Homo sapiens: one gene and its partner. The protein of the gene in region 1 interacts with the protein of each later gene in a biochemical or structural test. Each region holds a gene or a part of one and is shown in the gene's direction. Other genes may lie near its edges.

Region 1 (4,294 bases):
CCCGGAAATATGATTCCCTACCAGAGTGGGATATGGCTCAACATCCCTTCCCACCTCATACTCCTCTGGCACTCTTTGGAGTCTCCATTAGCTCTTCAAGAGAAGCTGGGCAGAAAGTTGAGGTCCAAAGCAAGGATAGATGTATTTACTCAAAGTGGCCCAACAAGTTACGGATGGAGCCAGGACAGTGACTCTGCCCTTTTGATTTCAGAGCTTGTGTGTTTCTGGTCTGGCCAGAGCTGGCTATTCTCTTCTTAGTGTCCTATTAGTGCATGTGTTCATTCAACACAAGAGATGGAGCACCATTTGAGGGCTGGAGGGTGTCAGGGCCCTGTCCTCAGGGAGCTCCCCTTCTGGTGGGAAAGAAAACTCTTTGACAATCAGCTCTCCCTAAAGATGACTGAAGGTGACCATCACTCCCAGAGAAGTGCAGGCCTCACCTGCAAAGGCAAAGGAGAGATCTTGCCTTGATTCGGGAGTGGGAGCGGGGAGCAGAGGAAGACCTCCAGGGGAAGGCACAGGATCCCTATGGGCTGACTTTCCTGAGAATGGCGCATGGGCAGACGGAGTGGGGACAGGGGCCACTGGTATTGTAGGCACCTGGAATTAGGACCCCTTCTCTTTGTGGGGTGAGTGTTTCGACGTTCATTACCTTATTTCATCTTAGCAACACTCGTGGGAAGATAGTAGAGATATTTTAAGATCTTAAAATGCCCATTTTAAAGCTGGGAAAACAGACTCTCCGGTGGCGTGCTGTAGACCACAAACTGAATTAAGAACGCCAGTGTTCTGATTCCATCCATCTGCGGAGTTCCGGGCACGCACCGCCGAGCGCCTTACCCTGAGCCTTCCCGGTACCCGCAGCCCCGACAGCTCAGCCTTCCCCACCTGAAAGTTCCACCTGAGGTCTCCCTCAACTCTGCCCTCCTGCATTCTTGGCGTCGCGGGGAGTCAGGGGTTAAACCCCGTGGCCCGCGTGGCCCCTTCCCCCTCCGCAGCCCCCTCGCCTCCACTCGGCGCCGCGCCTGGAGCGTCCGTCCCGGAGACCCGCACAAGAGAGGAGGGGAAAAAGTGGGCCTGTTTCTCGGGTGGCCAATCCACCGAGCCCGCGGTGCCCCAGAGGAGGCGCCAGCGCTAGGCCAGCGCCAGGCCGGGCTGCCTGCTTCCCGCGGCAAAGTACAAATGCGCCCGAGCGCGGCGCCTGAAGCCCTTGGCGAGCACAGCCGGCCCGCGCTCAGCCTCCCTCCGCGGCCGCCGCGCCGCCGCCGCTGCTGGGACCGCCGCCCCGCCGGGCCCCAGGCCCCCGCGGCCCGACCCCGAGCCCACCGAGCAGGGGGCGCCGGCCGCCTCTAGCCCGCGCGCCCGCAACACCCGCTGGTCCCGCGCGCCTCGCCCGGCGCTGCGCGCTCGGCAGACGCCGGTCCTCTCCCTGCTTTCTCCTCCTCTCCCTCTCACCTTCCCCCTTTCTTTGATCGCCTCTCCCTTCTGCTGGACCTTCCTTCGTCTCTCCATCTCTCCCTCCTTTCCCCGCGTTCTCTTTCCACCTTTCTCTTCTTCCCACCTTAGACCTCCCTTCCTGCCCTCCTTTCCTGCCCACCGCTGCTTCCTGGCCCTTCTCCGACCCCGCTCTAGCAGCAGACCTCCTGGGGTCTGTGGGTTGATCTGTGGCCCCTGTGCCTCCGTGTCCTTTTCGTCTCCCTTCCTCCCGACTCCGCTCCCGGACCAGCGGCCTGACCCTGGGGAAAGGATGGTTCCCGAGGTGAGGGTCCTCTCCTCCTTGCTGGGACTCGCGCTGCTCTGGTTCCCCCTGGACTCCCACGCTCGAGCCCGTAAGTAGACCGGGAGGCTGGGTGGGCAGAGGAGGGATGCGGCCCCTGGAATGTGAGGGACAGCGCCAGGACCTGGACCCCAAGCTCTTCTGACAGCCGTCCAGGCAGCACCTGTGCCGGAGGGGTGGAGACTCCGTGAGGACCAGTATGGGCCGGGGGACCGGAGGAACTCGGCACAACTCAGAACTGAGAGAGGGCTGCTGCCAGGGACCTGAGGAGGGGCACCAAGGGCAGCGGGGGGAGAGGGCAGGGCACTGTGTTTTGGGTTGGGGGAGGACTTACTGTTCCTAGGAGGGAGTCGGGTATGTCTGGCTACAGGTAAGGAGTGTGATGGAGAAGAAAAGGCTTTTTGCCTTTGGAAAGAGCCATTGGACAGAAATGAGAGGTAATTAGGATAACCTTCCCATTCTTTTCTCTCTTTTGATCCTCGCAACTCTCCAGTGAGGTGGGTATTATCATTCGCACTTTACAGATGAGAAAACTTAGGCTGAGCAAGGAGGAACTTGCTAAAACTTACAGAGCGGGTAAGCCATCCAAAGCCAGAACTCTAGTTCCAGATCCCATGCTTTATTCCCTGCCTCACATTGTCTAGAAGGAACCCTGAATTTGCAGTGTGAGACTCTGGGAGGCGGCAGGGCACAGTGAGATAGACCAGCGTCTTCACCATCCCAGCCCCGCTGAATGCCAGCTGCTGGGAGGCCGTCACAGAGTGCACCTCTCTGACCCTGGGTTTCCTAATCTATAAAGCGGAAGTAAAAATCCTAGGAGAGTTGATAGGATTAAATTAGAGAAAAGAGGTAAAGCAGCTAGCACAAGACTGGTGCTTGATAGCTTCCAAAAAAAATCAGTTCCCAATTATGCTTTTCCACATAGATACAGTGTAACATCAAACAGGTTACATCATCAATCTGAGCCTCAGTTTCCTCACTGCGCCCACAATAGGCTGGTGGTCCCCCCTCCCCATGCCCAGCCAATCTCTTAGAATGCTGTGAGGATGGAAAACCAAACCACATTCTCTTAATCAGAAGAAAGGAGCTTCATTCAAGCAGTGGGTTTCTCCAGGACATACATGGCACAGCCTGGGATTAAGACCCTGCGTTCCCAACTCCTAGTCTGGTGCTCTTTCCTCTCCCCAGCTCAGCTCCTCCATCTATGCCTTTCTTTTGCACGTGACATTCTGGAGCTGGTAGTGCTGGACTTTGTTACGGTCTTGTTTCTGCTCATGAGAGCAGGCTGAGTGTCTCTGGCCTGCCAGCAGCATGAGACTCACATAAGTCTTTCCATTACATAGAACAAGTAATGGAATTAGCTCAGTGTTGTATTCAAATCCTGGCCGTGCCCCTTAGAGCTGTGTGACTTTTTGTAAGTCATAACTTCTCTGAGCCTCAATTTCCTAATCTGTCTAAGAGAGATACTAATCCAGAACTTGCAGGGTTCTTGGGAGGATTAAAGGAGGTAACGGATTAAAGTGCCCAGCACAATGCTGTGTACTTAATAAATGTCTCTTCCGCTTTCTTGAACCCTGAGGGTTTCCTCCTAACACCTGCCTCCTATTTCTTAAAAGAGACTTTGCACAGGATGCCCTCCATGCCTGCCTCCCATCCACTTGACACCTTGTTCTTAGTCCCTGCAATTTTTTCTCCAGATATCATTGCCCTTGATGCATCTTGGAAAGATGTCCTAGAACCAGACTGTTATCCTACCCACACCCTGCTTCTTTGCTTCCCATATCTTGTCAGCCTTTCATGGCCTTGCCTAGGTCACACCTCTTCAAGCAAACTCTCCCCGGTGACTTGATCCACTCTGATCTCCCTCGTCTGTGCCTCCCTGGCCTTCAGCTCTGTACCTCTCAGCAGGTCCTGCCAGTATTCCATCTTCCCTACAGCCTTGTAAATACAGATCTCCAGACATGTGAGAAAAAGACTTGGAGCCAACTCATTAGGGTGAGGTGGACTGGCACTCATTGGAGAATGTTAAGATTCCTGGATGTTAGAGCTGGTGAAACTATCAAAAACCATCTGCTTCTACCCATCAATATACCTATACTTAGAGTTAAATTGAAGCCCAGAAGAGAAGAGTGACTTGCCCAAGGTCACACAGCAAATTTATTAAAGAAAAGAACAAAAGCCAGGCACAGTGGTACACACCTGTAGTTCCAGTCACCAGCTACTTGGGAGGCTGAGAGGGAGAGGAACCCTTGAGCTCAGGAGTTCAAGGCTAGCCTGGGGAACATGGTGAGACCTCATCTCTTAAAAAACAACAACAACAACAACAACAAAAAACAGAACAGACCTGGGTCCTGGACCCTGATTTGTCACTTATTGGCTGTGTGAGTTGGGACAGACCACTTCTTTATCTGAGCCTCATTTTGTTTGGTGCTGACAGCCTATGAATCTAGAAAGGATCCTATAGTCATTTGCCAAGATGCTATTTGAAGGTCTCTTACAAAGGTCCTCATCTTAGTT
Region 2 (3,804 bases), on another chromosome or scaffold:
CTAGTAGAACTAGTGTTCTGTGGAATGAGTTTTGCTCAAAGCCAATCCTTCCAAGTTGAAAACAACGAAGGCTTTTTAACCTCAAAAATATCCAACACTCCAGAATTTACCACCCCTGGAACTGCGGGCTGACTGCAGCGGACCATTTGGTTTGACCTTTAGTGTTTTAGAAAAATGAAATCCATTTGCCAGCGCTTAAAACCCGGGAGATTCCACAAGGTCTAGATTCTTTCTCTTGAACCTCAGGATCCCGGCCAGTCTGGGCCTCGGCTCTGCAGGGCGACCCTGGCGGGCAGCATGTTCAGTTTGCCGCCATACCTGCCACTGCCCTGCCCTGCACCCCAACCCTCCTTTGCTGCTGGTTTCAGAAGTGCACAGAGATAGCAATGGCCACAGACCCAGTGGGGTTATGAAGCAAATGTGACCTTCAGGCGCCAGCCCACCATCCGCATTTTATTTTTAAGTAGCTCCTGGAATCCTCATCTGGCCTTGCGCCTACCCAGGGCCCTGTCAAGGCGAATATTATGTGGGATCGTGGAAAGTGGTCTGTTCTCAGAGTTTCTAGCAGCAGAGACTAGTTCTTAAAAAGGCCGTGGGTGGTACACATCTTTAACCCCCCATAAGAAACGTTCCGGGAACACGGAGAATTGTGGCCACAGCTTTCTGAGAACAGCGTGGGAGGACGGGAGCCACGGGCTGGTGTGTAATTGACGGCCTGTGACCCAGACGTGGTCCCCCCGAAGGGACGTGGACATGACATACAGGACCTGTGCCCCACCCCGCTGTTCGTGTGGCGATGATGTCGGCCCGTGGCAGGGCCAGGATGCTCCCAGGAGTTGGGCGGACCTCCGCTGCGTATATGGAAGGAAGGACCCGGCCGGGGAAGCCGAGGGCTGGGAAAGTGACCGGGGCGGCGTCTGTAGTCTGCATTGCTGGAGTGTTGGAGCCCAGACGGAACACAGTCTGCCCTGAGTGGGAGGTGTGGGCTGCAGGGCGTGCGAGCTGGGGATTCCCGCCAGCTCTGGTTTCCAGCACCTGGAAAGGTCACCAGAGTTTGAATCTGGTAAATTCTTCCTGGATTGGGGGCTGAGTTCCCTCCCTGGGCCTGGCATGGGAGGACATCCTGGGACGGGCTCTCCTTCCAGTGGAGGCAGGGGCCAGCCTTGGTGGAGGAAGCCTGGGTTGGAGGCTGAGTTCCCTCCCTGGGCCTGGCCTGGGTGGACGCCCTGGGACAGGCTCTCCCTCCAGTGGAGGCAGGGGCCGGCCTTGGTGGGGGAAGCATGGCAGGGGCCGGCCTTGGTGGAGGAAGCATGCTTACACGCTTACACGCTTACGCGCTTACACACTTATGCTCAGACACGACCTTGACAATTCCTCCACGTTTCCACCATGACCACATCGGTCAAACACTTGCGTGGACCGGCACCTCACAGGGCCCTGCGGCTAGGCTCCCCTTCCCCTGGAGTATTGGCCTGAGATACAGGAGCCCTATGGTGTTTACAGAATGGCACTGACCTTTCATAAACAGCCCCACCTGTGGCCTCCTGTCCCTTGGCCAGGGTGGAGGGACAGGGCGGTGCCCACATTGCCCTTCTTGGGCTCTTACTGTGGGAGGCGTCCACGGCAGAGCCAAGGGGTCCTGGAGGCCGTGGGGGAGACTCGGAAACCAGAGGGTGGGCGGTGCCAGGGTGCACACAGCAAACCGGGGCTGAGCCAGGCCTGGGACACCGAGCCCAGCCTCTCCCCTGCGGTGTGACTGTGGGTCCCAGGGTGGACGTGCCGGGGCCCCCAGCCAGTGCAGGAGAGGCCTTTGAGCAGCTTACCTGAGAAGGGCCCATGGGGAGCTGGGACCTCCGGCCTCCGTCGCAAGGGCCTGCGCTGCTCTGAGGGCCCGTCGGCAGCTGGGTCAGGGCCACGGGGAGCTGGGACCCCCGGCCTCCGTCGCACGTGCCTGCGCTGCTCTGAGGGCCCGTCGGCAGCTGGGTGCCCAGGGTCCCGAAGGCTCAGGGTGGCCCTGAGGAGGCTGGAGCTCCACCGCATTTTTCATATGAGGAACCCAGCACGTCCCGCCTGCCTCCGGCCCCTGGAGGCTTTCTCAGTGACAAACCGTTTCTGTTTCTGTCTTGTTTTCTCAGACAAACGAGGGAGCAGGAGACACCCCCTGACTTTTTTTATTTCTCTGACTACGAGAGGCACAATGCGGAGATTGCTGCCTTCCACCTGGACAGGTGAGCCCTTCCTTCCTCCCTCCATCCGCGCTCCCGTGCGCTCAGACCCACCGGTGAGTGAGGCCGTCCTGCACTGGACACAGCAGGACGTCATCGTCACCTTCGTCACCATCAGGCAGCGCCGGTGCCTGCTCTCCCCCCACCCCGAGTGCTGCCCTGAGCAGGGTCCTGTATGTCATCGTCACCTTTGTCACCATCAGGCAGCGCCGGTGCCTGCTCTCCCCCCACCCCGAGTGCTGCCCTGAGCAGGGCCCTCTGTGTCATCGTAGCCCACACAACACGCGGTAGGGAGAGCCTTTCATATCCCCCTTTACAGATGAGAAACTGAGGCTCTGTGAGCGGCGATTTGCCCAGGTTCCCACGCTCCTAATCATCCCTCTGTCACCGAGGGAGAGGGCGCCTGCCCTCAGGGCACCTTAATCCAGATGGGCCCCTCCTGCACCCCCACAGTTCAGGCAGATGGGAGGCACAGAAGCTGCTGTGCGGTCGGTAATAGAGGAAAAGGAAAGAGGGAAGGAGGCAGGGAGGGAAGGGGGAGTATTAAGTGCTGCGAATCTTAACACAGAGACTCACAGAGCACAGGCTTCTCTGGGAGACCAAAGCAGGCTTCCTAAGGAGGGGGAAGCGATGTTTGTGATGAGGGGGCCTGGGAGGCCCCACGGTCGCCTGTCTCCAGAGGGGCCGCCCCAGCCCAGCAGAAAGTGAACCCCTTGTGAGGGTCAGCTTGGCCCTGCTGCTGGGAAAGTGGGGGGTCCGTGTTCAGTGCCCTCCAAGGGCAGTAAACGGGCCTGGCCCAGGTCCAGAGGGGCCCCGTGGATTGAAGGACCTTGCCCTGGTGCAGTGGAGGGAGGAGGCGCCACCCTCAGCCCCCAGAGCCTCCCTGCCTGCCCTGCACGGCCCTGACACGTCCCAGCCTGGGGTGCGGCCCCAGGGCCGGCAGCATTGGGGTTGCCCTGGGCTAGTTGGAATGCAGAGTCCTGGGCTCCACCCAGACCTGGGACAGAATCTGCATTTTAACAAGATCCCTAGTGACGCGGGCGTACATTGGAGTTTAAAGGGCTTTTTTAAAGATCAAAGTCTTCTGTGGTGACTATAGAAATCGCCAGAAGCCAGATTTTCCACCATTTCAGCTATCTAGAACAGCCTGAACCCAAAAAGGGCTTTTTATGAAAAGAAAGACGGGGAGGGTCATTAGGAAACAGCCCCCCTCGGGTCCACCTGTTTATAAAACAGGACACAGAGCCCAGCACCCAGGCGAGCCGTCTGACAGGTGGAGGGGGAGGGTGCTCCACGCAGAGGCGTGGTCGGGCCTTGGGTCCCGGGTCGGCCCTGGCAGACGGCCCACGTCCCTCCACACCTGGTCACCTCGCCTCACAGGACAATCACCACGTCCTCCGTCAGCAAGAAAAGCTCTCGCCCTGCATTCTCCATTTAATTAAGCGAGTGGGAGCCTGTGGTGTGGTTCAGAAGGAGTTCCATTAAAAGTGGCTCCTTTAATTTAATTTTGTTTTAAATTTAGCCCTGGAATGAGGGCAGGCTTTAGCTATGCAGGCAGTTGGTGCTGTGTGCCCATCAG

Evidence for each region.
Region 2: of the proteins of CHRDL2 (region 1) and FAM20C, one has a biochemical effect on the other in vitro, tested with the Homo sapiens proteins (one large-scale study listed by IntAct).

What each region holds. Positions count from the first base shown.
Region 1 is NC_000011.10:74,728,342-74,732,635, reverse strand, and holds the start of CHRDL2 (chordin-like protein 2 isoform 2 precursor), read left to right. Parts: upstream 1-1,209; 5' UTR 1,210-1,747; coding exon 1,748-1,829; intron 1,830-4,294. UniProt on the Homo sapiens protein: May inhibit BMPs activity by blocking their interaction with their receptors. Has a negative regulator effect on the cartilage formation/regeneration from immature mesenchymal cells, by preventing or reducing the rate of matrix accumulation.
Region 2 is NC_000007.14:244,280-248,083, forward strand, and holds part of FAM20C (extracellular serine/threonine protein kinase FAM20C precursor), read left to right. Parts: intron 1-2,135; coding exon 2,136-2,228; intron 2,229-3,804. UniProt on the Homo sapiens protein: Golgi serine/threonine protein kinase that phosphorylates secretory pathway proteins within Ser-x-Glu/pSer motifs and plays a key role in biomineralization of bones and teeth.